Regions from separate parts of the Homo sapiens genome. Here regions 2, 3, 4 and 5 are each linked to region 1. The links come from fine-mapping of genetic effects on gene expression. A gene starts in region 1. Each other region holds a variant in brackets. All regions are shown on one strand. Distances are between the middles of the regions.

Region 1 (6,472 bases):
CCTAATATTCTAACCTTGCCCTGGGCCCCAGTGTCAGCCTGAGCACAGGCCCTCTCCCCACCCCTACTTTCCAGCACTTTTCCCAAGGTGGCCAGGCTAGCAGTTTAAATCATCCTCTTCTCAAGCCAGTCATTTGCATTTCTGTGGATCCTCAGGCTAGGTAACAGTGGTTTCATTCCTTCACTGGAAATCTGGAATTGGGCCATTCCAACTTGGAGGCAAAGGACATTTTTGTAGGAGAGAACTTAATTGGCAAAATAAGCTAGGATTTTGAGGACAAAGAGCACAATCTTCAAAATCATTTCAGTGGTATTCAAGGGCCAAAACATTGGCAACAAAGTAGAAACCTCAAGAAATTCCCTTCAGACAGTTTCTTGGTGAAAAGAAAGGCCAATAGATAGAGATGGTGGTAGGGTAGAAGGAAGGTGGTTTTACCAAAAGCCAGATATTTGGAAGGCTTAGGAAAAATCTTTGGAGGAGAGGGTGTAACACATCATGTAAGAGAGAAATTATAATCAATAGAGCAAAATCCTGGTAGAGAGAAGATGGCTCATGTTTAGGAGCATAAGTGGAGTATGAGCCTTGAAGAGAAATGTGGTCACCCTTCTCAGCCATGACTGAAGGAGGTGAAGATGTGTGAAAACTAGGACTGAGGTTTAAGAAAGTTAAGTTGAGGAACCTCATGGTGGATCCTTCAGTAGAGTACGAGGCAAGATCATTTGCAGAAGTGCAGGAAAACCACGTAAAGTGGGGGCTTCAGGAGAGCAGACATTGGACAGGTTTGGAAGTGGCCTGGATAATGTTCCTGGATAAGTGTTCCAGATAATCATCCTCCTGATGAGGAAAGGAACTGAGAATCAGTGAAGACACAGCCAAGTCTGAATAGCATGAACTTTTAGTGGAATGAAGTGATTCTTTAACCTTGTCTAGCAATGCTTAGTAGCGCAGGAGCAAGTTCAAAAGAAACCTTTCAACTAAATACAAAAATAAACAAAAAAATTAATGTTGAGTGGCAACTTATTTCAGGGGACATTATTCATGGTGGATTTCAGTAACATTTTAATTATGACAAACACGAAATCTACAATATCAAAATAGTCATCTGAGAAAAACACCCACACAAAAAGATTATTGGAGTAATAATCTTTTATTTTCTTCTTTCTATGCTAGCCTAAGGCAAGAGAAAAGACCCATTTTTTCTTTCCATTAGACACAACTTTCATTCATTTGATGTTATTGAAATTTAAAAGAAGCAAAATCATTGGTATCTTTTCATTAAACATGTGTCTCATATAACAATTTGTGGTTTACTTTTTCTGTTCTATAAACAAAAACACACATTAAAAAGCCGGAAGAAGTAAAAAACAGCCTATTTCCATGATGGCCAGCCATGGCACAGCACTTCCTGGCCCCTGCTGATCCCTTCTCAATTCTGAAAATATTTAGGGGGAACATACACACGTTCACCTGTTTTGTTCCACAGTCCTACCCTGTGTAGGACTGTCAACTGAGTTCACATTTTACTACAAATGTGGAGAGGTTTTTTTTTTTCCAATCAAGGCACCATATTAACATTTCTTAGGTTACATCTTTGTAATCTTCAATTATAGTAAGATAAAAACCAGTAGCAAAGCATATCACCCAACTTAAAATTCAGAACAATACTTAGACATATGCAGCTTGCACACACATTAACCTGTTTCTCCCAACAAAATATTTGTAATTTCCAAAATCCTATCAGCTTTTTCACACAATATGGTCCCTCCAATTTGAGGGGTAGTAACATAGTCTCCTTACTAAAGAGATTAGTCTAAAAAAAGTAAAATCGCCAAAAGAATGTAAGAATATCAGTGGCTATAGGCTAGAGCAATATCATCTTTTAAAGCCTAATATGTTCATGAAATCTCACTTTAAGAAGGTGATATCTAAACATAAAATTTATTGACAAAAAACAATTAGTATTGATAAACCACCACAAAATGATTTTAAATGAAAGTAGAAGACATTATTAAAGCTCAAGATTTTTGCGTGTACTGATTTCATGCCTCAGGTTATTTCCATATCAAATTTAAAGAGATACTGGAAAATAGAAAACAAAATCCATCAACTGTAATCCATTTCCCTTACTCTTTTGTGAAATCATCACAAGGTGTGAAGGATTGTTTCTGTTTCCTCTATCTTTAACAAGCCTGTAACCTCTCAAGTGAAAGAACATGCACCTGTCAAGCTCATAGTGCGGGATGTACACACAGATGTGTTTAATAAATATCTGCCCACAGGGAGATTAGAGGTTTGCTTTGAGAATCAGGGAACAGGCTAGCTCATGTGTTGACGCTTTGGCATCTATCATACAATCCGCCACCTCGTTCCCTTACCAAAATATCCTCAAAGGAAATCCTCTTTGAGTCTTTCAGAAGAGTTATGAGTTTGAGGACCCAAAACGTTGAGGAAAGATCCACCCCAGGGAAGGGGGAGTGGCTGCAGAGAACAAACATAAGTAGGATTTAGGTGGCTCAGTGACGTCAGGAGGAAGCAGCGATGGAAGGGATGGGGTGCAAACTCACCTGGAGAAGCAGAAGCTGCACACATGTCAAAGGTCAAAGGGCATAGCCTCAGGGACTCCCCAAACGCAGGAAAAGTGAAACGCCCACTCCTGGGCTCTCGCCGTCAGGGGTACATCTAAGGGCTCAGCTGTTCCTACCTTTGACGCCAGGGACAAACCCTACCAGGCACAGTTGGGATTGGCAGTAAGGCAAGGAAAGCCTGCCCCAGATTTCAGAGCCAGCGCTGGGGAATCTCCCTGTCCTCTCCGCCACCCCCTCCCGCGCCCGAGACCTGAGACACCTTCTCTCTCACACCCACCCTCTCCAGGCCCTCTCGCGCTGAACAGCATCGGTCTCTATGGCGACCTGAAACCGCAGCTCCCATTGGCCTGTTCAATATGAGGGCCGGGCCAATGGGGAGGGCCAGCCCTCTCCTTCCCGCCAATGGGGTGGCGGGAGCTGGCCCGGGGACGGCGGCGTGCTGACGTTCCCGGGAGCCCGGGGCTGGCCGGGCGGGAGGGCTGGCAGCGGGGCGGGCGGCGGCGGCGGCCTCTGGGCAGTAGAGGGGGCTCCGGGGCTGAGTCCGCGTCGACGCCGGCCGCGGAGGCGGCACCATGGGCAAGGGGTAGAGGGGCAAGTTGGCCACCGCCGCCGCCGGGGGTGGTGGGAGAGCCGCTCCGGGGGCGGGGGCCGGTGGGGGAGGGAGGGGCGGGCAGCCGCGCCGCCGCGGCACTTTTTTAATTTTTTCGGGTGCCGCAGCGGCGACCCCTCGGCGCCGATGTCCCTGATCCCTGGAGCGACGACGGCCGCTGCCTAAGCTGGAAAGTAAGTGTGTGGGCTCGCGGGAGGGCGCGGAGACTCCTGCCCACGAGACCCTCGGCCCTCGCCCCGAACACGCGCCAGGGCCAGGACCTGCGCGCCGGGGGCCGGGGGCCTCCCTCCCGCTGCCGCGTCCCCAGCGCCTCGCGGCCGCCGCGGCTTTCCTGCCCCGCCTCGTGTTCCTGCCCGCACTCGCCTGCTGCTCCCCTCCCCCCGGCAGGCGCACAAGTTTCACCCTCCATTTGCTTTTCCCGGCGATTCCTCTCCCCGGTCTCCCGTACGCGCAGCGCACGACCTCTGCCCACGCTGGGCTGTTCGGATTCAGAGCTCCCAGCCCCGAACTTGAGCGCCGCGCTGAGCCCTGCTGGACGCCCTCGCGGCGGCTTCCCCGCTGCCTGCCGCCGCGCGCCCCAAGTCGCCCTCGACACCACTGGGCGCCCGCCCTCCTCAGCACTCGGGGCCGGCTGTCTGTCCTTCTAGCCCCAGATCCTGCACCTTGGTCCCCTCCCCGTCTTCCCACGCCCCTGCTGCCCGCGCGGTCTTGCGTTTGTCCCCGAAGTCCTGTACTCCTTGCCGGTCCTGCCCACCCCTCTGCCTAGTGCGCCCCTCTCTACCGGCCGCGGATCCTCACGCTCCACCCCTCCCGGCTCCCCAGCGCCGAGCCTCGCCGCTGCCCTCCTGCGCCGCCGCTTCCTCCTCTCCCTGCCAGGAGTTGAAGCGGAGCTGCGGCACCTCCCTGGCGGATCTGGTATCCCCGCCCGCTGCCGAGGCTGCCGGCCCTCTCCCCTGGACCGCTACCCGGAGAGCGAGCGGCGGGGCCGGGATTTGGCTGCGTGTTGGCTGAGTGCGACACACCGCGAGCGCGGGCAGTGGAGGTGCCGCGGCGGCCGTGGCCGCTCGGGGCGCAGCGGTAGTCAGGTGTGTGTGTACAGCGGGGGACGCGCGCTGCCGGCTCCTGGGCTGGCGACAGATTGTGCAGGAATGCGAGGAATGCACCAGGGGCAGAGTCCACACAGCCCGCCGCGGCTGCCCTAGCGCCTTCCCTCCCCAGCTCTCGCCGCGCAGCCAGAGGTCACCGGAGCATCTTCGGAGCTGGTGAGCCTCATTCCACTCCTCTCCTCCCATAGCTTCCCTCCATGCGGCAGAGGGGAAGCGCGGTAATTCTTTGGGGCTCCAGCTAGCCTTTCGTCTGGGTTTTTGCTGCATTGGTCTTCAGGACCGTGAATTTGGGGCCGATGACTGTGTAGCCAAGGTTATTGATCATTGCACAGGGCTGTTGGCAAGTTTGGTGTGCAAGGTTTGGATAGTGCCTGGTTTTCACTAGGGTTTTCTGAAAACCAGCAGAAACAGGGGGCCTGAAGGTTGTTAGAGTAATGAGCTTGCAGCCAACATATTTTAGCTCTATCAAAAAATGCCTGTTAGTGCTCACGGGCATGTACTGCGAGAGAGATCTTGAATGCATCACTTTGGTATCCTAAGAAGTGTAATTTTTTTCCCTCGTCATACTGGGCTGTGTTTAGACCTCGTATAATACATAATGAATAGAAACAGAGAAGCACTGTTCGGTCAGCGATGGGACAGATAGAACTGTCTGGTACAGTTAAATTCGGGACGTGTCAGTTACCATTGAAAGTAACACGGGGACACCACAATCATGTATATTTCAAGATGTAATTTATTAGTGGAGGTCTCAGTTTTTTCTCTTTGTTACTGAGTTTGACTGAAAAAAAAAAATAAATGCTGCCCTACAAGTTTTAAAGAACGGTAATTATTTACGTGTAAAATCAATGATGGCTAGTATGCATTTTTGGTCAAATTTTGTTTTCCTTAATACGGGAGAGCAAAATTTTGACAGAAAATGGTTCGCTAGAATTGAGCTTAGATTCTTTTTATTTTTAAAGAGAAACTAGAAGAATGCTTCTCTTCTTGAATGCAGTATATTGCTGTAGGAGTATCTTCGTTTTGGTGCCTGTGAAACAGTTATGGAAAATGGCAACATGAAAACGAGAACAACTAATGTCTGAAATAAGTGTTTCTGGGTGTTGAAAAGCATCATATGTGTGTTTTTATTTGACACAATTTGCTTTGCAGGTTGCATTTATGATAAACCTCTTTGCACCTGGTTATTTTATGTCAGATTCAGTAAAATAATAAGTCAGTTGTCTGACCAATCAGCTTTCTTCCAACACCTACTTTGTGTAGATCATGGACATTGAAAACTATTAAATAGGAGCCTTTAGTTAAGGACTCAACAGAAAGGAAAAAAAATAGAAAAAAATATTTTGCACTCAGAAACGTTTATGTTTTGGTTGCTACGTTGTTTTTCAGCTATGTGCATAATCAGTGAATCTTCTAATTTAGAGGTTTAATTTGTGTCCAGTAACACTGTGGAGGATATTGGGAGGTGTTTGTAAATGCCAACAGGAAACTTTTATTATGTAACAGTATCATATTACAGCAGTGTTTAACCCATGCTTAACCCGTGCTTTTTTGACTTGATGTCAAGATTGGGAAGTAAAAGCAAATTTAGTTTCCCTGCCGCATTAGAAATTGAAAACCCTGTTCAGATGTATGGATCACACACACACACACACACACACGACACACACACACACGATTGGCTGTGCAGATAGTTTTGCCTGCTTCAGGTAAAGGTAACCTTTCAGTTAGAAATGCTTTCTATTTGTTACAGATATTCAAAGAGTGGAAGTTTTTCAACTAGTGATCCTACACAATTGAAAATAACCGAAATTGTATTTTGACCAAAGTGCATTCCCTCCCCACCCCCTACTATTATGTAAGGAGAGGGTGCTGCATCTGGTGTCTTATGTATTATACTGAAGAGTCTAAGTTGGGAAAGCTAAATATCCAATTATTTTAATTTTTACCTGTATTGTTTTTGGAGGGAGATAAGGGAGCAGAGTATTGATGGAAAACAAGGGAAGAAGAAACTAGGGGCAGCTAGTATTCAGCCAGAAAGTAAAATTATATACATTATTGCAGCAGTAATGCATTTATAAGCTGAATAAATCAAATCTAATTTTGTGACTAGTTCTGACATGATATGAATTTAAAGAAACTACTACCAAATTCAGTTTAATAAAAATTTT
Region 2 (6,472 bases), 340 kb before region 1:
GAGGTGAAGTCTCAAACTATGCTTGTGAGTTTATTAATACTTTATTTCTGACAGTTTTTGCTTTATTTTTTAAGCTCTGTTTTTAGTTTTTATACACTTTGAATGTTATGTCTTCTTGGTAAACTGACTCTTATGGTTATGGAATATCCCTCTGTCTCTGGTAATTTTCTTTGCTCTGAAGCCTATTTTGATATTAATATAGTCATTCCAGCATTAGATTAAAGCTTGCATGGTCTATATTTTTCCATTCTTTTACTTTTAATCTGCCTGTATCATTATCATTATAGACAGCATATAATTGGATCATATGTTTGTTTATTCATTCTGAAAATCTCTGTGTCTTAAATGGGTGCTTAGACACTTTGCATTTAATGTAATTATTGATATGTTTGGATTTAGGTTTACCATTTTATATTTGATTTCTGTGTATTAAGCTCTGCTTTCCATTTCTTTATTCCTCTTTCCAGCTTTCTTTTGGGATAGTTGAACATTTTTTAAATATTCCATTTTTATTTATCTGTTATATTTTGACTATATCTCTTTGTTTTGTTTCAGTTTTGTTTCTCTGCTTATTTGTTTTAGTGGTTGCTCTAAGGATTACAGTAAACATATTTAATGTTTAAAAATCTACTTTTAATCAATGTTGTACGACTTGAAGTGGGACATATAGACCTTACAGGAATATACAGGAATCAAATAAACAAAAGAAGTGCAAACTTATACTCTGAAAACAACAAGCATTATTGAAAGAAATTTTGAAAGCTCTAAGTAAATGGGAAGACATCCTATGCTTATGGATTGCAAGATTTAATATTGTTAAGATAACTATACTACCAAAAATATTCTACAGATTCAATGCAGTCCCCATTAAAATTCCAGTTGCCTATTTTGCAGAACTTGACAAGCTTCTAATAAAATCCACGTCAAAATGCCTGGAATGCAGGATAGCCAAAATAGTTTTTACAAAGGAGAAAAAAGTTGGAGGACTCGCACTTCCCAACTTCAAAACTTATTACAAAGTTATAATGATAAAGACAGTGTGGTACTAACATATGGATAGACATAAAGATCACTAGAACAGAACCAAGAGACCAGAAATAAACTCTCACCTTTATGTACAACTGATTTTCAACAAGCATGCTAAGACAATTTATTGTGAAAAGAATCATCTCTTCAAATGGTGCTGGGACAACTAGATATCCACATGCTAAAGAATAAAGTTAGATCCCTATCTCACACCATATTCAAAAATTAACTCAAAATGGATGAAAGACCTAAATGTAAGGCTTAATTCTATAAAATGTTAGAAGAAAACATAGACATAAATCTTTGTGACCTTGGATTAGGAAATGATTTCTTATGTAAGATACCAAAACACAAGCAATAAAATAAAAATAAATAAATTGAACTCTAAAAAAAAAAGGAAGTTATCTATTCAAAATCAACATCTAAATATGTCTTTTATAAAATCACTAACTGGTATCCTCTAATCTCTCACTAGAAATTTTAGTAATATGCAATGCATTTTGAATGTATTTATATTCCCTTGTTAACACAGAAAATGCATAAAATGCAATAGACCAGATTAATACAACATGGCATAGTTAAGCCTTTTAAGATGCTAGGGATATCTAAAGCTGAGTTTTTTTCTGGCAATCATTAGGCAAAATCCTTAACATATTTTTGTAATGCCTCTGACTCCTTCCCAGTGTGTTTCTAACTTCTTTGATAAAACCAGGACAATTGATCATTTTGTTTGAGACATAAACACAGTAAGTGTCACTTAAGGTCAATGTTGGTTGGTGGTCTTCAGCCATATTTTACTTCTCATTAAAGCAGCCAGACCGAAAATTGTGTCCAGAGGTGGTGTTTAGTGAGTCTGGTTTAGGAGTAAGGAAGGCTTTAAGAACCAAGCTGCTTCTGTCTGTGCATATGATCTTTATGTCTCCAGAAATATTCAGAAATTCCTGTCGATTATAGCAATATCTACAGTTCAAAGGAGAATTCAAACCACAAGCTATTCTAACATCTGTTTTGGTTTTATGGTCAATCTGAATAGTTGTAATTTACATTCACTGGCACCACACAATGAGGTTATTTTCAAACTACCGTACTGTGTTAAAAAATTTCCTTGGACTTAGATCGTGAGCCAAGTCTTAACTATCCATACCAACAAAGAAGAAAATTCTAAGAATTATCAATAACTAGTTTAAAACTCACCTGAAACCATGGTCTTAACCTCTTTGCTACCAGTCTTTATGGCAGACTTCTATTGCAGTTCATTACTAGCTTAAGGCTTCATCAGAGAAACTCATAAGAAGGCAGAGAAAAGACAATATTAAGGGTAGAAGAGAAGCAGAGGGCGTGGATACAGGGTTAATTACACCCCTAATTGAGAAAGAGAATAGCTCAGGAATTATTGCTAAATGGAAACAAGATGCATCATGTACTCAGACCACCCAATAGTTAGAGTAAATCATTTGTGAATGGGGCCGCCTATTCTATAACCTCAGTTAGGTATTTCGTTAGACAGATATTCTTTATCCCTGTGATGGACCTTGTCAGCCCTCCCAGTCCTCTGTCCAATGCTGCCTACATCAGCCAGATACCACCAACTGCCTTTTCCTCACTAGAGGACTCAAACCAGCTTCCTGTGTACTAAATTCTGCAATACAGGAAAAGTAACAAGCTCAGAAGCAGGAATAGAAAATTGCTA[C/T]ATGATATAAAAAATAATGGTTACCATTTGCACATCACTGAGAACGTGTCTGGACTTGTGCAATGTCCTTTGCCATATGCAATCTCACGTTCTTCTTTCAAAACTCTCTGAGAGGTACTGTGTTTTTCCTATTTTGGAGATGTTCTGAGGCACATCGATTATTTGTGTGACACTGAGCAAGTTTCTTACTCACTGATGGGGTTGGAGTTCAAAGCCAGGTTTACCTAACCTCAAAGGGCAGACCCTCCACTATGTTGTCTTCTCTCTCTCTGCATTTTCCTCACCACTTACTTCAGAATCCGGGAGGACTTGACTCTTGCCACCTTGCTGTGGCCTGTGCTTCCTCCTGGGTGTGAGAGTCTGCTACTGCTCACCCTCTTGTTGCTGACCCGTAGTGCTTCTCTGCTCCTCTCCCTGGCGTCCACCTCTCCCACTCCTGGTACCTGGGGCTAGGGTACCCCTAAACAGACTGTTGTATGAGTAACTGCCAGACAATTGTATTACCATCTTCTATTAGACACCGTTGACTGCAACACCTATCCTAATTTCAGAGAAGGTAAAATGTGAATAAAACAAAAACAAAAATAAATCACTGGAATTGATGAAATGCCACAGGGAGATCCCACATTTACAATAATAAGGCTTGTTCCATGAGAATTTCTTCTGAATAAGAAATTTAAAAGTCTTGACATGATTCCTTTAAAATTTTAAGTTCACATACTCCATTTCACAATACAAATTTATGATGGGGGATGGGGAATCAGAAAACATACCTAAAACTGGTGGTTCTCCTTTTGCTCTTACATCACTCACGTGCCGTGGCCTCAGAACTTACATCCTAAGCATATGTCATGGTAATGCTCAACAATAGGCTGTCTATGTCAATTTAAGATGCTGGTTGGTGTTCACTATAAACAAAAACACCAGGAAACACCTCCTTGAATAATATCAACATTTATTTTGATTTTGTGATTTTCTTTACAAATTTAGTGCAAAAAACTTTGCATCTGTTGCTTTATTTACAGGTTGATGATGCAAATTAGCTAATTCATGGAACATAAACCATGACATCTACACGTGTTCTTAAGTAAATTAACTAAAAAGTAAAATAAAAACATTAGAGTTGAAACTGACCCGTGGTTCTTATCCCAGTTACTATGGCAGGCCCTTGTTTATTTTTATTAACAGTTTGTCTGTGTCGGTGGGAGCCCCAACAGAATGAAAGCATTTGCACTGTTTATGCACAAGGAGCTCGGGTTTGAGGAAGCTGAAGAAGACATAAAAGACATCTGTGCTGGGACAGACAGATACTGTATGTACAAAACCGGGCCTGTGCTCGCCATCAGTGTAAGTATCCATGGTTGCATTTCAGCTAGTCATTGCAGGCTAGAGAAAAAAGTGGGAACTTTTACATGTAGGAGTTCTTTTTCCCTCCAGCTTCGCATTCTTACACAATCAAACAAGGTGTCCAGGTATGAGTTCATTATTGGAAAAAGCCCCCAGGGCAGAACACAGCATGCAGCATCATTTTTGTTTATTAGTTACCACTTAGGTATTCAAATTAGGGGGAAAATACTCAAAGCACCCCTCCTTTCTCTTTACTTTGTAACTGGTTAACACCCCTCACCCCCGCCACGGCAATTTTCCTTCTTCTATCCCTTACCCAGCTTTGGGAATGTTGAGCTTTTAGTACACAGAGGCTAATTTTCAGGACTGCTAAAGTGCTGCTGTTTAACACCATAATAAGCTCGCTGAAAAGCTGCTAATGCATTTCTACTGAGCTCTTGTAAATTACTCTCCTGCATTTAGAACATGTGAACAGTTATGGAAGCACACAGTGCCCTAAGACAAAATGAAAGGGGAATGATTTGCAGTTTTAGGGAAGATGCAGACCATTTCCCCCTTGGACTCAGCTGGGCACACACTGATGAGGGCGTATGTGCATAGGCATCCCATTTGCCTTCCCATGTTTGTCTCTCTGCACAGGGCTGTATTCTGAAGCAATAACTCTGAAGCCATCACATTTCTGGGCACTGCAACCCTCAAAAGAGGCACAGGCAGGCATGCCAGGGGACAGGGGAAGAGTCTCCTGCACAGGGTGGCAATTCTAAGGAACTAAGCTGTAAGTGGCTCCTACCATAGGGAATAGGCATCATCCATTGATTGCCCTACAGTGTGGACAATCATTGATGAAAACCTGCGGTAAAGAAGGGAAAATTATGCAACACCAATAAGGCAGCTAAATTGCTCTCCTCTCTGGGCCAAGAGCGCCTGAAACCTGCTCAAATGGGAGAGTCCATTCAGTTATTCACTTGTGCATTCAATAAACCATTACAGAATATCTACATTAGAAGGAAGCTGAATATCCACTGATCTTGGTAAATTTTTTCTTACCAACATTTAGTGGACCTTTAGACTATAACTGTTTTTTGTATAGTAAATGGAGAAGGACAAAAAAGTAAGTTTCTTAAAAATGTGACACTACCATAAATAAGCAGTAAAACTTCACAGTAAGAAATGAAAACAGCAATAGACTGATCCTGTCCTGTCTGGGAAAAAGACCTGAAATATGTGTGATGCCAAGGTTACCAATTAGAAATGGGCCTTACTAGGCAGGCAGGGGATTGACAAATGTGATTCCTTCTTTGAAAATTCTTCCTCTCCAGTAGTGGTTGAATGGGGTGCGTGTGTGTGAAAGAGAGCACAAGTCCATTTGTCATTTTATCAATGCGTAACATAATAAGTGGCAATCATTAACTTACTAAATGTCTGAACTAGAAGGAATCTAATAGATCAAATAATAGTTCATCTTCTTATTTTGCAGGTAAGAAAAAATAATACTTAGAGCATTTATTCATTAGTCACAGAGCCAGTTCCAAAGTCCTAAACTTGTTAATCTTGGATATACAAATCAATACAAGTTCGATGCCTGGCTCCAGGATGCTTACTAAACATTTGAAAGTCAGGGCATATGCAATGGGAACCAGAAAGGGGTAACGCAGAGGTTCGAAGTTTCCATAGCTCAACATTCTTGATAGACGGAGGAAGCTCAGGTGAAAACATCATGGTCACGGCCAATGGTTTTCCAAAGTCTTTGTGTCCAAAAGTAGGACACATTGAAGAGCACATTTGACTCTCTGCTGTTATGTCAGGAATTAAGTTACTACCAGTTTTGAAATCAGTTCCAGTTTCTGCAAATTACAGAATGGAGGATGTTTCTGGAGAGTTATTAGGACATTGTGTAGCCACCAGGAGTTGCTAAATCCTGTAGCCTGTGTTGATCCCTTTTCTGGTGACATTGATTCCACTGTCCTGAATACTGAAAAAAACAGGGCTATGGTCATCATCTATAGTAATTTAAACTCACTTCCATGTTCAGTTTAAGTTTAAAATTGTTAAGTGGGGAATCTAACCCACGTTTCTACTCTAGTACCTTTCAGAGCACACAAAATTAACAGCAAATGAAATGGATTCACTATTTCATTTAGTATGGTTGAAAAAGACTGATGATTTGGCAACCAAAATTATATTTCCTCAAAATCAAGTCAATCGTGCAAAAAGCTCTTTTTCAAAGGCTCATCATGAAGAGCCCAGTGGGAAGATGGGAAATGGCACCGCCCTGACACACCTGTATACCACACCATCCCCACCTTCTGCTCTTGCTGATGAGGGCTGAAGTCAACAGAACTGGCAGTGAGATGCCTCCCTCTGATCTTCACAGATGGACACATCTGTCAGCATGTCATGTAGGTGCCA
Region 3 (6,472 bases), 340 kb before region 1:
AGAGATCTCACTGCCTATTGCGGGATAGTCTTAGGTGTTTATAAAGGGAAGAGTAGAAAAATTGTTAGAAGATATGTTTTGAGGGTAGGGGTAAATTTCAAGTCTTAGGAGTTTTTTTAAAGTGACAGAAATAAGTGTGTTCAAGTAAAAAAAAAAATCATAAAAATGTCCCAGTTTTATCAGCTAAGTGAGCAAACTGCAAAGCTCTTAGAAAAACATTGCTTTTTGCTCACATCAGTTACTACGTCACCTCTACTGGCTGTATCTTTTCCTCATCAGTACACTAGAAAGAAACCAGGCCAGGCTTTCAGGGAAGGCTTAAGTGATGCTTCCTATAGTTTTCACAGAGCCTCCCAACCTCCCTTCTTCTTAGGCCTGTCAGTCAGCTGTATAGAGGCCTTGGTTTTGCTTCCAGAATGTGTTATGATGAAGTTTTGAGGTTTCCTCAAAACTTTCAGCTTTTTCTTAAGGAGCACATCTTGTCAGGGTATGATTTTACCATGTCACCAAAGTGCAAATACAGACTGCACATGGCAAATGGAGAAGTTTGGTTGACAGGGCGATAGAACTGAATGGGCATTATAAAAAGGGCTGAGATTTGGGAAGAGAAATGGTGGTAGAATTAGACATTTATGGAGCAAAAAGGGATGTCAGAAATCCTCACACAAGTAGGTGGAGAAGTGGTGTGTTCAACATCACAAAGCCACCATGGCTGAGCCATGCTTCACTAGAAATCAGACATGTTGGAAAAGATGATGGCTTTCCACAGCCGTGGTCCAGGAATAAAGTCCAGCCAAGGCCCTTACATCTGGGAGAAAGTAGGACCTTTGTGGATGTTCATCCATAGAGAGAAGTAGAGTGCTAGCAATAAGTGTCAGATCAGGCATCCTTCTAGATTGTAGTTTATCCAACAATACCCCAAATAATCAGTAGTAGGGAACTGCTCATTTGGGCATGAATTTCAGATAACATAGCTATTAAAGTTGCTCATAATTCTTGGGTTGTGGGTTACAAGGATCTGCCTTCATAGCCAACATTCATGCATTGTAAAGTCCTGACTGCTACAGTTACCACTTGATATTAACAAACACCAGCATGGGCAAGGTGCTCCAATGATCATCCAGCTCTTGATTAGGGTATTTTATTTCATGGCAACACGATACATATAGCACACAATGAAGGCCCATGGATGGTGGCAAATTAACCCACTGTACTGGTGTGGACACCTTCATTTTGAAGTTTTATCCTCATTAAGAACTCTTAGCTTACCAAAAAGATGTATTTGCTTATTTTCTTTTAAGCAGTATTGCGTTTGGAGATGAAAGATGTACACAGTATTGTCGCTCACATGATCCCTTCCTACATGAGCCAACACACCTTAACAAGCATAAACTACTCAGTTAAATAGTATGTTGACCTTTGAGAAACCTTAACCATGACATAATACACTAACACATTTAAATATTAAGATGGCATATAAATAACATCATTTTTATGTATATATTTTCAACTTCCCTCTCAATCACTTTCTTAGGACATTGTGAACAATTCAAGGAGCCACTTACTTGGATTGTTTAAAAACTATCTGGCCAGGCATGGTGGCTCACATTTATAATCCCAGTACTTTGGGAGGCCGAGGCAGTGGATCACTTGAGGCCAGGAGTTTGAGACCAGCCTGGCCAATGTGGTGAAACCCCATCTCTACTAAAAATACAAAAAATTAGTTAGGTGTGGGTGTATGTGCCTGTAGTCCTAGCTATTCTGGAGGCTGAGGCAGGAGAATTGCTTGAACCCTGGAGGCAGAGACTGCAGTGAGCTGAGATCACCCCACTACATTACAGCCTGGGTGACAGAGCAAGACCTCATCTCAAAAAAAAAAAATAAAAATAAAAATAAATTAAAAAAAAATATTTCACCCAACAAGGCTCTATTATCAGTGGCCACCTTGGGTCTCTAGTTGGATCTTCTAAAGCATTTTGTAATTAAGTCTACTTTGATCAATATCAAAATTTATGCCACCCTGAAGGATAAGTCTATACTCTATAGAAAGGATTGTCAAGCTTTTTCTGTAAAGGACAAGACAGTACATATTTTAGGATTTGCTGACTGTGTGATTTCTATTGCAACTTCTCAACTCTGCCTCTAGAGCTTGAAAGCAGCTATAGACAATATGTAAATAAATGGGTGTGGCTGTGTGACTAATAAAACTTTATTTACAAAGACAGGATTTGGTTTATGAACCATAGGCTTGCGGAGCTATAATCTATGGCATCTTTGTGAAAACATTCACTCATTTGACAAATTTTTATTGAGTACCTATAATGTGGCAGGCACAGAGCTAGACCAGGAGAGAGCAGTGAACAGACATAGTTCTTGACTTTATAGAGTTTATGTTCTATCAGAGAAAAAGATAAACAAATGGGTAATTATAAAAAGTGTTAGGACAGAGAGAGTCTAGGGCATTTATGAAGATATATCTTCTTATTCAGGCTTTAAATAGAAACCAGACTGGGTCAAAAGCTGGGTCAAAAATGGGCCTGGGGAAATTTAGTGTAACCTATCTGTGTTGCCTTTTAATTTTTTCATTTGTTTGCTTCCCTTCTGTGGATTCAGACCTTTTTCAGGAAGTAAATTAAGCTGACACCTGAAGAGTGACTTGGTGTGTGGTGAAAAGGTGGGGGGAGGAGGAGATGGCATGGCAGGCAGGGAGACTAACAGTTGGCAGAAAATAGTTTCTTAAGTAAGCCCAAGTCCCTTGAGCAACTCAGACTTTGTAGCCATGGAAGGTCAGCCAAGAGCCCTGATTTACATGAAGTCGGCGAGAGAACAAATGTGAAAAGAATCAGAAGAAAAAGAGGATAGAGATGCAAAGAAATTACAGTAATCAAGAAGTCGCAGAGAAGATTAAATATTAAGAAGTCACATCACTTTATGAAAGCTACTTGCTGGCAGGCTTATTTAGTTTTTTCCTGACCTAATTTATTCAAATTTGAGCCCAAAGTCTGGCACTAATTTGCATGTCCAAGAGTCATGTTTGTCTTGAAATCTAAACCCCATCACATTGTAAATGTGCATTTGAAAAGACAACAAATGTAAATGCCTCTTCTGAATGTTATTTAATTGCATTTGGAAAAGAAAATAATTTTAAAGTTGAAAACAGGGAGACTCATTAGCAGCTAGCATTAATACTAGAATAAGTTACATACTATGTGTCAAAAGTAAACTCTAAACGATATTCTTCTGTAATCATTTATTCCCACATTGCAGGGATTGCACCAGGGACTGTTGTAATAACGGATATAGCTGTAGACTCCTTCTTTAAGCCCCGGTTTGAACAGGTCATTTTGGACAACATTGTCACCCGAAGTACTGAACTGGACAAAGAACTGTCTGAAGAACTGTTCAACTGTAGCAAAGAAATCCCCAACTTCCCAACCCTCGTTGGACATACAATGTGTACCTATGATTTTTATGAAGGTGAGAACAATTTATAAACTGTGAAGGAAACAGAAAAATGCCAGCAA[C/G]TCTTTGTTATTCAAACCCATAATTTATATTAACAACTCTACTTAAGAAAATTAATATTTGTGGGTTAAAAAGGAAATGAAACAGCCTTTTTTACTTACTAAAGCATAGAAACACAAGGACATAATGAGCAGCAGAATGAATTTATATTGAGGGTGGATTTAATCCTCCAAGAACACATTGAACACTAAAATGCAATTAGTGATGTTCACAGAATCTTATCTCTGTTTATGCCTTTAACTTAAATTAGCAGCTCTAAGAGAAGGGAAGTATGCTGATTCTATGTTTCTGCCATTCATCTGTACCTCAAAAATGATCCTGTCCCCCGGAAACAGTGGTCCAGAAAATGGGGAGAAATGCTTGGGGAGGGGGTACAAATCCCACGGGATGGCATGATCTCAGAGCGGGGTTTTTATCTCTCAGCCATGAGTAAGGGGTCCCCAAACCAAGTTTAGAGACAAATTGAAGATGACTGCTATGTAGCAGCACTTGCTACTAGGGATGAAGGGCCAAGGGGAAGAAACCTTCAAAGACAGACCCCCGATTCTTTCTCGTCCCAGAAGAAAGAATCTACACAGTATTGGTACCATGCCTTGAAGGGCATTCTGAAAATCTGGCAGTAGTTTTATTCTTTTCAAAATCCATACTATTTCATTATAAATTACTTTTATTTTCCCTTTAGCTCAAACTTAAGATATATTGAATTTTAAAAAATTATGTTTGGAGATAGGTCATATTATCTATACATTTTACTTCCGGTTAGTAAAGGTGGTTTCACCACATATTTGTTGTAAAATAGAAGGGCTGTTGGGGTCCAATAGGGTTGGGACCCTCTGTTCAAGGCCACTGACTCATAGTCCATCTCGAGGGTCACTCACTGATATGTTAAAGCAGAATTTGCAAATGGAAGCTTGTTAAAGTCAATGTTTCCTTTGGCCTGCACAGTATTTTTAAAAATGTGAATTATTTTGCCAACATTTACAATATCTGGAGATTTTATATTAACACCCACATTTCTGGCTTTTTGAAATAACTAGCATTTAAAAATGTACACCAGTATATGCATGACAGCCTTGACAAGCCCTGACCCACATCTGGGGCTACATTTGCTGAAGGTGAGGTGAAGCTGCTCCCCTCAGACCAGACACTCGCATCGACATTACCTGCTTGGCTTCTGCGATGTCTGTGTTTGAATCAGCTTAAATAGAGGTGGTGGCACGCAGCTCTAATGAGAAGAGAAGGAACAAGGGGAAGCAGACTGCCAGGGGTGAAAGTAGCGTGAAAGAGATAGAGGAAAGGGAGAAAAAGAGAGGAAAGAGCACCAAAAAGGGGATTGTGAAAATAATGGATGGCAACAGAGTGCTATTAGCCCACTTGCTTGAATCCAGGTCTTCTCAGGAGTGAGGAGGCATTAGGAGGTCTATTTCTGGGTGTGCACAGGGTACGGAAGGAGTAATGACATCAAGGTTTCCTTTCCTTGCTTCTGTCCGCACTGGTAGATACAGCTGAAATTCAGTGATGAATGAACACTGGGAGCAGCCTGGAAAGGAAAATGTGATCACAAGGGGTGGCGTGCAGCCTGAGAAGTGTGCGGAAAGGGGGAAGGTGGACAATGTCGCAAAGGCATATGGAGAGGCGCAATGTCCAAACACTGTCCTGATCCTCAAGTAGCTTAGCATCATCGAAACCTCTTTTTTTTTCTCCCAGCACCCATCCCTGGGCCATTCCCCAGTCATTGGAGCAACCTGAGATTTTCCTCAAAGGGCAGCTCTCACAGCAACCCCCCGCTTCCTGATTTCCCTGGGCACAGTGCTGGCTGCTGCAGCCACTCAACAGTTACTGACCCCAGAACTGAGGTCCTCGGCCATGAAGGCTCCTTCCTACGTATGAGACTCCTCAGCTAGGGACAGCATCGCTCCACAGTCCTCTGGTAGGAAGAGTCACACAGCTCAGTTTATCCTACACGGGGAGCACGCTGTAGAGTTAGACAGCGGCAGCGTGCTCCAGCCAACAGCAAGCCTCCTATGAGGCCACTGTCAGTGGGGTGGGACATCAAGTCACTAAACGTTCTCCCCTCCCTTTCAGGCCAAGGCCGACTAGATGGAGCACTGTGCTCCTTTTCCAGAGAAAAAAAGTTAGACTACTTGAAGAGAGCATTTAAAGCTGGTGTCAGGAATATTGAAATGGAATCTACAGTGTTTGCAGCTATGTGTGGACTCTGTGGTCTAAAAGGTAAGCTTTTCGTGAATGCTTAGGGTCAAATTCTCCTCTTTCATGAAGCTACTTTTACACCTTAGGAGAAGAAAAAGAGGTCCAGCTATATATTACCTTGGGCTGAAGGCATGACTTATAATTGTATATAATATACATTATCTCATAATATCTTGTGAGTGGCCAGGACATTATTCTTATTATGCAAATAAGGAAACTAAACCTCAGGGTTCAACAGCTAATTGGTGACATGTTCAGGGCTTGACAGCAAGTTCAGTTTCCTTCATCCTGGTGGTGGCTAGTAGTTTCTATTACAATTGAATTTATTGAGACAAGATACAAACAAAATATTCCTAAAATAGTCCATCAATCATAATTTTAAAGAGCATGGTCAGGGAAGGATGGGAGAAGAATGTGCCACTTGGATATCTGGGGGAAGAGCATTCTGTTCAATGCAAATCCAAGGCCACAGACAGGAGCATTCAAGGAGAATTGGAGGAACAGGGAAGAGATCAGGAGGGGAGAGGCAGTGGTGGAGAATGGGAGGAGAGAGGGAAGATGTACAGATTGTGTAGGACACTGTGAGAACAATGACTTTCACTCTGGGTGAAATGAGAAGCCACTGGAGAGCTCTGAATAGAGAGGTGGCTGGATCTGACCTGTGTGTTAACAGAATCACAGTGGCGGCTCAGCTGGGAAGACCCGAATGGGGTCAAGGGCAGAAGCAGGGAGAAGAACG
Region 4 (6,472 bases), 120 kb after region 1:
ACTAACATGGCTAATTAAGCAGAAAAGGAATTCATTAAGGGATTATTAGTGAATTCCCACATTTGTTACAGGTACTGGAGAACAAGACTTGAGACTAAGATTCCAGGAACGGTGTCCAAATTTGTGCCACAATGTTGATCAGATAAAGAAACTATTGTTATAGCCACCAAACACACAGAATTGTGTATGGAGGTTGTTTCCATGTCAGGATCTTGACCTTGAGACCTAATGCAGGAAGCACAGCAAGAAGGCAATAGAGAGAGAAAACAAGTGTCCTCTTTGCTGGAGTCAGAGTCTCAGTGTCAGCACCTGCATCACAACCTGGCATGAGTGTACTTTCTTGGCAGAGCCAAAGTCACCCGTTCTGCTTTTGAGGGAAGGAATTATGAGAAATTCCAACTTCTGCCTTCAAGCAGGAACTTTCCCAGCCATTTCCTTGAAAGGTTGTTTACAAGGTCACAGGCAGCCACAAACATGATAAAAATTCATTCCTGTACAATGGAATTTGTTTCTATGAATGGAATTTTTTTTCTATGTTCTTATTTGCAATGTATCTTCATACCATACTGTACCTGATATGGTAACTTTTGCCCATCCCAAAATGAGGACAGTACTCCAGCCCTCAATCCCTAGTAGCCACTGAACTCAGAGGACGAAGGTATTGTGATGGCTTGGGGAATATTTTGGGATTCCTGAGTAGTCTTTTCCTGGCCCAGCTTGATACAACCAGGCAGTCTTGTGGGAAAAGATGCATATAATGACAAGTGAGTAAATGAAGTGAACAAATAGAAGTCTATAACAAAAAAAACAAAATGATGCTGTTTAAGAGCAAAGAAAGAGTAAGTGTGAGGTAAGCATAATAGTATTTTCAAATTGGTTATCTTAGCCTGGTACTGAATGCTGAACAATTTATGTCTATCTAGTCTTTTGTTACTGAACATTTATTAAGAGCCTAGGAATTGTTAGGCAGAGGCAGGCATTGTCCCACTTACCGATTATGATCATATTGTACAGCATTATTGAGCCAGCTATTATTCATCTAGGCCCTGTCCAATACTGCCACACCAGTTGGGATCATTAGGAAAGGATTCTCAGTATCAGAAGATGGTAAGGAGTTTAGGGACTGTTTCTTAAAAATTATTCCAAGAATAGCTTGTGGAATTTGCAGAGCCAGTACTGTCAAGCAATTACATGTTTGCCTGATTTCACAGGGAGTTCATATACTTTTCAATTAAAATTTTTAATGGCAAACGAATGTATACATATAATCATAAATAATATTTTAGGTTGTTTTATTTCTGAATAGTTTCTAGATTTAATACTCATATGTCTGGTATTTTGAACTAGCAGTCATCAAATTAAACTACTTACAGTTCAGCATTTGCTTTGAATAGACTTGTGAGGAGACAGTATGGCACAGGGGAGCTTGAGATGCTATTTGTAGCTTAAAACCTTTGGAATGTACTTGATCTTTAGATATTTTATAACATGACATGTTTTCTACTTACTAAAATCCCATCAAGCTAACAATGAGAGAAATACAAATAAAGTTAAAACATTCTCTCCTTTCATAGAACTTGTTTGCCTTCACTTTGCAGCATAGATTCAAGAATATAATTTCTGTAGACTATCTTCCAGCTTTTGAATATATTTTAAATTCTATGTTATGGCTTAGTCTTTTTCACTTCTTGTGTTCCTTCTCTCCTTTGCACAGTGGCACATGATTGCTTTTGGACATAGCAAATTTTTGTTGGTTATATTATAGATAAATACGGCAAGACTTTTTCTGTGGCATTGGAATCATTTTTTTTCTTAATTAAAAGACTATATCAAACATGGTAAAGTGATTCTGATCACGGGGATTTATATTTTTTTAAACTATGCTGACATATAGTATAAGAAATATAAAAACTAGCCATTGTTTGCTGTGTCTCTGATGTAGATACATTAAGTAAGGTCTCTGGAAGCCTTAACTTTAGTAAGGCACTGTAGCAGAAGTACTGTTTGAAGACCTCAGAACCAAAATCAGAAAAGGCAAATAAAGATCTACATGGTTTTTATGCCAAATAAAGGCTGATATTCTATTGCCTTTAGATTTGAAAAAGCTAGGAATCAATAGGTCATTTATTTCATCCAAAAATTGCATTTCACAAAGCCACACCATAGCTTTATGTTATGGGTACGTTCCTATGTTTCCTGTGACATACATTAATTCATATATCTGCCTGAGCAGCATACCTTGGCGCCTTATATGCCTTTTATTTTCTTGAATCACAGGAGCTTCAGTTTCAGCGACTCACCCGAGAACTGGAAGTGGAAAGGCAGATTGTTGCCAGTCAGCTAGAAAGATGTAGGCTTGGAGCAGAATCACCAAGCATCGCCAGCACCAGGTACAGGGCCAATGGCTCCATCTTTATGCACACTCAAGTTACATGCCTTACTAGGTTGTTCTCTATGCAGCAAAAGATTCTGTTAGTGTTGTTACTGTTAACTTGCCTTCCAGAATTTGAAACCAAAAATGTCCATTTATTCTAATTTTGAGAAGCCTCTTGCAATCCCTCAGTCCTGTGCTTGAAATGTTTTCTATAGCATTGGCAAGCTTCTGTAGCAAAAGCTACTGTGCTGCCTTCAGATTCCTCATATGTACACACAGTTAATGGGTGTTGTCGTGATTAATTGCTAATTATTTGGTAAAGTTAATTGGCTGGTGCTTTGAACACCTGGTATTGATTTTTTTAAAACTAAGAAATATTTCTAAATAAGATTGCATTAACTTTAAAAATGTCTTCAATTTACTT[T/C]GGGTTTTTCTAGAACTCTATGAATCTACCACACAAACTAATTACTATATGGAATAATTTACTGTACTCACATACAGTAAATACTAAATGAGTGCATTACTGTAAAAACATAATCATGATTGTTATTTTTTATTTAAGTACCTCTTATGCTATTTAAAAGCATAATTCCTGTAAAAATTACATGTTCCGAATAGTTAAATCACTGCTTATCCTATCTATAGATTTCTTTCTTAATAATTACATATTTCTGTAAAGCCTACTGTAAAATGCTTTCATTGCTTGCAGTTTTAAGTTTGATCTGCTTACACTTAGGTAGACATGCCTGCAATAACTTTTCTCTCAGTTATTTCTAACCTCATAATTATTCTACTTTTCAGTATCTTGTGTTACTCATGGGCAAAAAAACTTCTTAGTGAATAGAATTCTGTCTGTTGTTTCTGATTGTTGGTATGAACATTAAACTATTGGGCTGGTAAGTTGTAGTAATATGAATTTTTCATCTCTCTTAACAGTTGTGTATATTGATATGTTTGGTAAGGCATAAAGTATATAAATAAAGGTCGTCAAAACTTTTACAAAACAAATATAAGATTATGTAATTATTTTATAAATATCCAGGAAGGTTTTTATAGAAAGAGAATTATAAGCAAGGTATAAAATAATAAATTAGAAATTTCTAACTCAGACTTTGCAATACCCAATGAAATAATTCGTTAAGTTAAAACTGTGAAAACAAAAATTAGCTTTAATTCTCTATAATATTTTTTAGAAATTATCCGTATCTTTAGCACCAAAAAGAACAACTCACAAACTCAATAATATGGTATTATATATTTCTAAAAGGTATGAACCAACTGGTTTTGTTTTTCTAACCAGAATTATATTTTAATAGAAAAGTAATTCAACATTTAACAGAATTCTGTTAGTACTTCTTATTCTGGCAATATTACTAACTAAATTAAAATAGAAATTCTCTTGATAAACTCCTAGTAATACTTGGTATATCAATAATAAAGACCAATACCTAGAGGAAATGGCACAAGAGGAGGGAAAATCCCCAGATATTGAAACTAGAAAGAGCACTGAAAACCAGAGCCAGAAGCTTGAGCTACCTCTGTAGGAGATGTGAGAACAGTTGTCAAACCTCAAAGTAAGCACTAGAGGTGGATTTTATACCCATAGAGGAGCTAAAGAATGAAGTTTTGTGTGTGCTCAAGATGGTATGTTTGAACTTAACATCACTGCACTAAGCCATGTCCTTTAAAGGACCCCATGATTAGCAAACCCCAGGCTTCTATCATATGTGGGTTTGGAGCCCAAATGTAACTATCCACATTGCTCAGGAGTCCCCAGTGAGAAAATGGCACCACTAAAGATGAGCTCACAGTGAGATAGTATAAAACACAAATTTATGAATGACATCAGCAAGATGACAGAATAGGACTTGTCAGTGCCCATCCTCTCACAGAAACTTCAATTTGAACAACCATTCACACACACAAATACCTTCACTAGAGCTAAGGAATCCAGACGAGAGATTACAGCACCTGAATGTAGCACAGAAATAAGAAAAGATGTATTGAAGAGGGTAGGAAGGACAGTTTCACACTGTGCTTTGTTCGTCATGTATTTCCAAATTAGTTCTGATTTTGTAAAAAAAAAAAAAAAGCATTGAATTACATATCATAAAAAAACTTGACCATGAGTGAGAGAATCAGTGAGCAAAAGAGTAGGGTTTCACAGTCCAAGAACTGGATACCATTGGAGGAAGTCTGACAGGTGTGCACAGTAAAACAGATACAAAGCATGCTCATTGCAGCACCATTTGCAAAAGTAAAAAATTACAAAGAACATACTTATTCCTTAGAATGGAAATGGAAAATAAACTGTTAATAGGTACACTCTAAAGCAGTTAAAATGAAACTCTAGAGCAGTTAAAATGAAATAACTAGATCTACATGTATCAACATGGACATGTTTGCAAAACAGACTTGAAAAGCTGTAAGTTGCAGAAGAATAGCTGTAGGAGGATATAATCTATGAGCAATTTAAAATATATATATATAGCTATATATATATTGCTATATATATAGCAATACTGCATAATAATTAAATAGTACTTGGTATTGTTTGTCAGTGTGTGCATGTGGAGTAAAATTATAAAATATTTTGGAATGACACCAATTTAAGATAGTGGAACCTCTAGAAAGGAAGAAAGGAGGACGATACTAGGAATTAGGCTTTTGCAGAATCTGTAGCATTTTATTCAAGAGCCATCTGGAGCAAATATAACAAAATGTTAACAACTGTTAAATGAGGGAGTGGTTGATATATGCATGGCTATTAGATTATGTTCTGGACTTGTGAATTTTAAAATGTTAAATAATTTTAAGGCTATATCGTTCATTGGCTGGTTCCATATGTTTTTTTAAAATCTCTAAGTAAAGTACATATTGTGGGTAGTAGTTTCTGTCAGTGACTTTTTTTGTGGTTCCTGTCTGGTTCTCAGTGCCTGGCATTTGTGCCTGGCAAGTGACTGTGGCACCACCAGTGAATGTCGGGTGAATGAATGGGTCATGCAGAAATGGGAGTGGGGTTGACCAGGGAAAGGAGGAAAATGTGCACAAATGCATATATGGCCCCACAAACAGTTGTCCCGAGCAGTAAGAGGCTCAGTGTCTAGGATATGTCCTAAAAGGACCTACTGGCTTATGAAATTGGAAAGGTGAAGCTGGCATTTAATTGTGAAGAACTTTATTAGATCTTTAAAGGAGACCAACTGAAAGTTGTTATTGGTGGTGGTGATGGTGATTAGAAGTTTTCCTTTTTTGAGAGTGCAGTGTGTAAAACAGAATAAAGAGGCCAGGCAGCCAGATAGGAATCTATTATGAAATTTTAAGGGTTATGAGTAAGGTGGGTTTCTTCATTCAGTGATCTCTGAGCTGTGGTTGGAATGGTAATTGATCTACTTGGATTGCCCTACTTTCTTCTCATGTTGAATTCCCATGTATTCTTGATGTCCCAACTAAATGCTTACCCTTCTTTACAACCTTTCTCAAGTTTCTCAGGAAAAGTCACCTCCCTCATCTGAATTCCCATCACTGTTTCCCTGTGCATGTTAGCTGCTCAACAGGTAGTAAGGCTCATTCCACCCCCATGGCCCTGGCACAGAGCCTGGCGCTCAGCAAGTGGGCACCCAGCCAAATGATCATTGAATGGATAATGAACCTTAAGTCCAGGATGCTTCGGGCACATCATGTAAAGGTGCTTTGCCATTAGGGGAGCTAAAGTTTTTTATTGTGTCACTTGAGAGATCCCCCTTGCATCTCCAGTGTGTTTCAATTGTCAGTCTTGGAACCAGAATCTAAGTGATACAGAGAAGAACAGAAATTAGCTCTTAGACCCAGGCCCCCTTTCCGGTATGCCATTTCCGATTTGCTAAAAAATAACAATTAAAAGTGGAATTGTTGCTTTGGGCCATCAAGCTTCTGTTTGATTCAGTTCGTTCTTGCATGAAATGAGTTTAATCAGCAAACTGGGGGATTTGATCACCAGTTACCTTTCATACTGTTTGATTTGGATCCTGTGGCAGAGTTGGTAAGGTGATCTGTAAGATTTTCTTACTTTTCCTGGTCCAAAGATGACACTAATGACTCAAAGGAAAACGAAAAGCA
Region 5 (6,472 bases), 320 kb before region 1:
CATGTTCAGGTCTGTGTGTTCCCAGAACATTCTAGCCTCAGGTCAGTTCACTGACAATCTCCTTGGTGGCAGCTGGGTCACTAAGTATCTCTTCCTCCCCAGCAGCCACCCTCCCTGCCTAATCTGAGGATTTTGCTAGCAAAGCTGTCAGGCTTAATTTCAGCAAATTGTTTTGGGTAATTAGTCCCTTTTAATTGCTCATGGAAATAGTAATTTTAAGTGACAAGATTATTATATGCTGCTCGCTAGTGGATTCTCCAGGGTCAAGAAAACACCACTGAGATTGCTATAACCTGTTCTTTTCTATCTTTGGCATTCCCCTTGAAATCCAGAAAAGACATTTAGTAAAGTCGGTTCCCACTCTGTAAAAAGTATAGAGCACTGGTTTCCTTTTATCCTTCTGCCAAAGTGAAGGATTAGAGAAGGACTTTCAACTTTTCTGTGCGACTGCCAGCCCATGTCAGGCTTCACAGATTTGCTGATCATTAACTTGAAAAGCTGTGGGAAGTTTCTAGCTCTTCCATTTGCTTGTTTACCTGTACAGCCAAGTTGCTTTACAACTGACTGAGTTTTGAATAAATAGGGTCCTAGGTGATGAAATATTTGCCGCAGCTCAAGTTGAATATTTTCATTGCTTTTCACGTCACTGAACAAGAGGGTCAGTCTGACCGATGGGTCAGTATAACCGATAGGGCAGGATTGCCTAATGGTTCACCATGTGCTAGCTCAGGGGAGGAGTGGATGGAAGGTAGAGAACTCTTCTCTCATCAGTTTAGGAAGCTAGGAGTTGATTGGCTCTGACCAGCTGTGTAATACTGGGCCATTTGGTTGATCATTCTAAGCCCTCATTTAATCATCTGTCGAAAGAGGACAAAAATAATCCTAGCTCAAGGAATAGCTGTAAAGGATTAAGTGATATCATAAATGCTTGGCATGTAGCAATAACTAAGTCAAACAAAAAAGATACATGGATTGGAGAAATGTGGAGAAACGCATGGAGAAAACATTTCTAAACTGATACATCTGATAAGAGGTAATACACAGAACATACAAGGAACTCAAACAACTCAATAGCAAGAAAACAAATTAAGAAATGGGCAAAGGATCTGAATAGGTTCTAAAAGAAGACATACAAAAGGCCAACAGATATATTAAAAAAAACACTCAACCTCACTAGTCATCAGGGAAATGCAAATTAAAACAATGGCGAGGTGTCGCTTCACACCTGCTAGAATGGCCATAATCAAAAAAGACGAAAGATAAAAAGTGTTGGCAGGATGTGGAGAAAAGAGAACCCTTGAATACTGTTGATGGGAATGTAAATTAGTACATCAATTATGAAAAACAGTATGGTGGTTCTTCAAAAAACTAAGAATTCCCATATAAGCTAGCAATCCCACCTCTGGTACATATCTGAAGGAACTGGTATCAGTGTGCTGTAAACAGACATCTGCTCTCCCAAGTTTGTTGCAGCATTATTCACAACAGCCAAGATATGGAATCAACCAAGTGTCCATCAACAGATGAATAGACTTTTAAAATGTGGTATATATACACAATGAAATACTACTTAGCCTTTAAAAAGAAGGAAATTCTCTCATTTGCAACAACATGGATGAATTTGGAGGCCATTTTGTTAAGTGAAATAAGCCAGGCACAGATAGACAAATACTGTATGATTTTACTTATATGTGGAATCTAGAAAAATCAAACTCATGGAAGTAGAGAGTAGAATGGTGGTTACCAGAGTATAGGGGAGCAGGATGGGGAACGGAGAGAAACTGGTCGAAGGGTGCAAAATTTCAGTTACAAGGAGGATTAAGCTCGAGAGATCTATTGCATAGCATAGTGATGAGAGTTTGTAATAACGTATAGTGAAAAATCTTTAAGAGAGTAGATTTTAATTGTTTTCACCATAAAAATGCAAGTATAAGAGATGATAGATATGTGAATTAGGCTAATTTAATCATTTCACAATGTATACATATATCAAAACATCACATTGTACCTCATAATTATATATAATTACTATTTGTCATTTAAAAATAAAGATAGCATGTACTATTATAATTACAGTATACTACTTCTTCCCAAATCTAGATCTTACAAAGAAGTCTGGAGTAGCAGAGAGGTCAAAGAAATAAACACTACCCTCATGCCCAACTCTCTCCATGCCTTCCAAGTTTGTTAATACAGACACATCCAATCCAATCACATATGTACTGAAATCCTTTTTTAAATGATGCAGATTCAGATGGAGATTATTACACCGTTAGCAATTCAAAGTGGCTAACACTGATTTCAATGTGGGTAACCACATTCCTTGAAATCAAAGATTTGATATGAAACTGACAATAAAGAATTCATATGGAACTCAATTTTTCTTGCTGATGAAACCAAAGACATTGCCCTTGTGACAACTTTTCAAAAATAAGAGTTTCATTTTTTAAAAAAGACTTTTGTTTTTTTTCCTCCAGTTTCCTATAAGATTTCATTCTCATTCTTTAGAAATCAAATGCTAATACATTTCCTCTTTCATGGTGCTGCTTCTTACATTTAAGCATTTCATATCATGTTTTTTCCTCTCAAATTTCATGAGAGCCAGTACTCACGTTTATTGGTATTTCCTGAGGTCAGCGTT[C/G]TATATCTCTTCTGTATTTACTTTTTTCTTCAGCAAGGGCTGCAATGCAGCAGGCAAACTCAACCATTGCACCAAGGAGAAAAATGTCACCTTGGGAATTACGGCTAGTTCTCCAGTTATATCCTCCCGTAAAAGACCCTCCTCTAAGAACTGGAAATAGGATAGAAAGCAGGAGATGGCATATCTCAGATTGCAAAGCTTTCTCCTTTATCTTGAACATGATGCTTTCCTGAGCCTTAATCTAGTCAATTGTGGAGGAAAAGAGGAAGGAGGAGTGTTCACAACAATTTTAGTTAACTTATTTAAATGAAGTGTTTGGTGGGATTCCACAAAAATATTGAAGACCAGAAGGTTCAGTAGGTTGCATCTACATTACAACAACAACAACAAAAATACACAAAAGTACATGTGCTAGGGATGCTGGTGTGTTTGGCTAATGCTTCTATAGAAAAGATGAACCCATTCATTCCATCAGTTGTGCTAATTGCTCTTCTAGCTGCTGTGGTCTGTGTGACACTTCTCGACAGACTCGACTGTGATCAGATCAACTTGCCTCATGATGTCCTGGTGGAGTACCAGCAACGGCCTCAGCTCCTAATCTCCAACTTCATCAGACGGCGGCTTGGACTTTGTGACTAGACGTCCTAACTGGGCAGCCCAACCCTCCCCTGCAAGTTTGTAGCTCAAGTTGTAATGTGAAAGTCATATTTTATTTGTGGCATTTTTATATAGTTCTCATCCACATGCTAAATGGAAAGACTTTATGAAATCCTTCTCTCTTAAAAAGGAATTTATTGTAAAAGAATACTCACACTAAATTAAATTCAAATTTCATTTTAGAATAAGTTAACTAAATCAGTCTAATAATTAAAATTTTAAAACTCCTGGATTATGACATTTGGAGTTTCATATGCAGCATTAATTAAGCTCACATCAAAATAGACCAGCCATTTGCACATAGTTACCAGTCACTCTGTTTCTGAAACCAATCCAGAAATTCATGTTAGAACATTGTCAGGCACTTCTAGGTATTGGACAAGTGACAGAAACTGATCATCCATATTCAAAATATTTACAGAAAAAAGTGTCAGTGAAATGTAGGTCTATATGGAAAAGTTACCATTAGGAAAATATGGCCATACTGCTTTTTTACCCCTGCACTATTTCAGTGCACCACAGAATAGGATTCGAGATTTACATATGCCTGTTTGTGATTTTATCTCAGAATATAACAACTCTGGATTACATTTTCCTCTCAACTGAAAACCCTCAGTAATGCAAAGAAAGGCCTTCCTTTTTCTTCAGAATCACAAGTGACTAAATTGCCTTCTAGCCATTTTTTCTTGTAAAAAAAGTGTTTTGAGGAGGCTGTATTTTTTATTCCATTTCAATATTAACCAAATAGGCTGAGAAATTCATAGCAATTGAATTAAGACTTGAGTTCAAGATGTTAAAGGAATCCTTTTGTATGACTTGTCCAGACCGGCCTATTGCCCTACCCGTTTGATTCTCTGGGAGGCATGGTGCTCCTCCTGGCTGCACATGCTCTCTGTGAACTGATCGCATCTTGGGTTCTTCTCAATTTGACATACTTGGGAGTCGGAATGACTGGATGGGGGATGGGTAGAGGATGACTGGCACACTTGTATAGTATGTAATGTTGTGTACATATTATTTATATGGTTGTGGCTCAAATAAAGTTTAATTCCAACACAGTACAGATTATTTGGATCCCAGAGCCATTGTCACACATGACCGAATGGAGGCTTGGGGCAGGAAATAGGTCCTAGGCCGGTTGAGTCTGAATTGGCCTGCTCCTGGGTGGGGAATGTCTTTCTCTTTCAAGCAATGACAATAAACAAGAGGTATTTATCATCACCAATAAACAATCCCCCAAGAGGTACATTGGTTTGTGAACTTCTTTTTGGCACTAGAGACACTTTAAGTGCCATTTTTAGGGTATCTCAATAATTGACCATCAAATTCAAAGATCAGAGCTAAAAGCAAGCTAGAATAGCATTGCCGTCATTTTCTGATGGGATTTTTACTTTGTTTCATATTTTTTTAGACCATGTAGTGAAAACCACCTCAGAGAGGCTTCAGTTTGAACTTTTATCTGCCTGCTCCTGGACAATCTTTTTTTTTTTTTTTTTACACGGAGAAGGAGAGGCTATGAGAGGGAGAAGAATGAAATAATTACAGTTAATCTTCTCTTCAACTCCTGCAAGGAGTGTGTGCGCACAGGTGCATGCATGCATGCATTTATGTCTGTGTCTTCCTCACTGGTATTTTCTATCTCAGTAAACCATATCACTTGCACAAGCCAGAAACCTGGGAAACCCCTGTGATGATTCTTTCTCCTTAATTTCCACAGCCAGTCAATCACTAAGTCTTATTAATTGATCCTCCTAAATATTTCCCCAGTCTGTTCATTTCCTTCCATCTTTTTGGCACCCATCCTAGTCCAGGCCACCATGATCTCTCCTCCAGGTCACTGAGGAAGCCTCACTCCTGATCACCCTGCCTCCATTCTTGAAGTTTGATTGGGTTATTTTCCTGCTTCAAAGCCTTCACATTGGTCTTAGAATGAAGACCAAAGCCCTCTGTGCAGCTTAGGCATTCCTGACTGGGCCCAGCTTGGTAGCCCAGCTCACCTCACCCACTTCTTCCCCTTGTGTCTGCCCTCCAGGCACATCACCCTTGGTCCTTCAGTCTTACCCAAGGCACAAATTCACAAAGGCACAATCCCTTGGGAAGGACTGCCAACAGATCCATCCAATGGGGGTGCTTAGCTGCGGGGACAAGTGGGACTGAGATCCACCCTGTCCAGCTAGCTGTGAGACCTGGACAGGGTGAATCTCAGTCCACCCTGAGCCACAGTGACTGAGAGGGGCCTTTTCCTGATTTATACAATGGTGTTATATGGGATAGTGGGAACTCTTAGTGCCAATGTCCCTTCCCATTTCAGAGCCTTTTGCTGTCTACTCTCCCTGAAGGGCCCTCGCTTAACTCATGCTCATGGTTTAAATCTCAACTCAGAGATCCCTTCCCTTAGAAAGTCTTTCTAATCCTCAAACCAGATTCCTTCCATGCTCACCTGTAGTCCCCCTCCAGAGCCCCCTCGACTACTTCTTCAAAGTATGCAGCTTGCAACTATGTCATGATTGGGGTCATTATTTAATTAATGCCTACTGTCTACACTATAAGGTTCTGGAGAACAAAGACTGCACATATTTTATTTGCTTCTATCGCTTCAAGCACCTAAAACAGTACCAGACACATACTAGGCACTCAATAAATACTTGTCAAGTGAAGAATGAATCCTTTTCATAGCATTTCCCTTGTAAACTCTCACTATAATCTCACAATCTTTGCAAGACTCATACTTTCCTTATTCAGTCCTGGTCAGCACAGCTCTCCCTGGCTGTTCCTCCCACTACATCTCACTCTGTGGGGAGGAAAGTCCTCTGTACCATCAGTGTATATCTGTGGCAGTGTCTAGAACCTCTTGTTTTCTCACATACACACAGCTTTCCCCTCTGTCAAAACCAAGCCCCAAATTCACCTCCTTTGGGGAGGTCTCCAACTTCAATTTTCCCTCAAGTCATCACTTCTTCCCTCCTTCCTTTAGAACTAGATTTGCACTGGGAAGACAGGAATTTGTTCTCATGCAGATGCCGTATTGAGAACATTTATCCTTTTTCATGTTCCTGGGCTGTCTTCATTTGGGAGGCTCACATTTCCTTTGTACTCTTAGCGTGTCATAGAGTTTTGTTCTCTACAGGTATCTTCTGACTGCTTACCTATGCACACTCTAGGTCTGGGCACCGG

Which allele goes with the higher level. Positions count from the first base shown, and alleles are read on the strand shown. Sizes are in standard deviations (SD) of each study's normalised expression. Not every link is listed here.
With allele T in place of C in region 2, the expression in whole blood of the gene that starts at base 3,102 in region 1 is lower (moderate effect, 0.65 SD a copy in GTEx).
As copies of T replace C in region 4, the expression in monocytes of the gene that starts at base 3,102 in region 1 goes up (large effect, 1.7 SD a copy in Quach 2016).

The links.
Region 2: its variant is fine-mapped to the expression of PKP4 in whole blood (TOPMed, PIP above 0.99).
Region 3: its variant is fine-mapped to the expression of PKP4 in whole blood (INTERVAL, PIP above 0.99).
Region 4: its variant is fine-mapped to the expression of PKP4 in monocytes (Quach 2016, PIP 0.95).
Region 5: its variant is fine-mapped to the expression of PKP4 in whole blood (INTERVAL, PIP above 0.99).

Annotation. Positions count from the first base shown.
Region 1 is chr2:158,453,851-158,460,322 of GRCh38, forward strand. PKP4 (plakophilin 4) reads left to right here and starts at 3,102. Exons shown (of 22, transcript NM_003628.6): 1 at 3,102-3,368. It overlaps CCDC148 (coiled-coil domain containing 148), which reads right to left and starts at 2,903. Exons shown (of 14, transcript NM_138803.4): 1 at 2,565-2,903. The coding sequence starts at 2,589. LOC124907900 reads right to left here and starts at 4,284. Exons shown (of 1, transcript XM_047446754.1): 1 at 3,281-4,284. The coding sequence starts at 3,604. The coding sequence ends at 3,281. RefSeq lists silencers at 2,807-3,101, 2,832-3,201, 3,422-3,471, 3,722-3,771, 3,792-3,851 and 1 more and an enhancer at 4,382-4,461.
Region 2 is chr2:158,111,197-158,117,668 of GRCh38, forward strand. UPP2 (uridine phosphorylase 2) reads left to right here. Exons shown (of 7, transcript NM_173355.4): 3 at 3,905-4,063. Among named protein-coding and RNA genes, the nearest start is that of UPP2, 13 kb to the left of the region's middle. RefSeq lists an enhancer at 2,173-3,372. The variant C/T (reference allele first, on the strand shown) is at 2,717.
Region 3 is chr2:158,118,142-158,124,613 of GRCh38, forward strand. UPP2 (uridine phosphorylase 2) reads left to right here. Exons shown (of 7, transcript NM_173355.4): 5 at 3,268-3,477; 6 at 5,608-5,754. Among named protein-coding and RNA genes, the nearest start is that of UPP2, 20 kb to the left of the region's middle. The variant C/G (reference allele first, on the strand shown) is at 3,525.
Region 4 is chr2:158,574,994-158,581,465 of GRCh38, forward strand. It overlaps PKP4 (plakophilin 4), which reads left to right. Exons shown (of 22, transcript NM_003628.6): 3 at 2,278-2,390. It overlaps LOC105373715 (a long non-coding RNA gene), which reads left to right and starts at 2,398. Exons shown (of 2, transcript XR_001739137.2): 1 at 2,398-3,270. The variant T/C (reference allele first, on the strand shown) is at 2,799.
Region 5 is chr2:158,131,611-158,138,082 of GRCh38, forward strand. It overlaps UPP2 (uridine phosphorylase 2), which reads left to right. Exons shown (of 7, transcript NM_173355.4): 7 at 3,138-4,544. The coding sequence ends at 3,280. Among named protein-coding and RNA genes, the nearest start is that of CCDC148-AS1, 32 kb to the right of the region's middle. The variant C/G (reference allele first, on the strand shown) is at 2,642.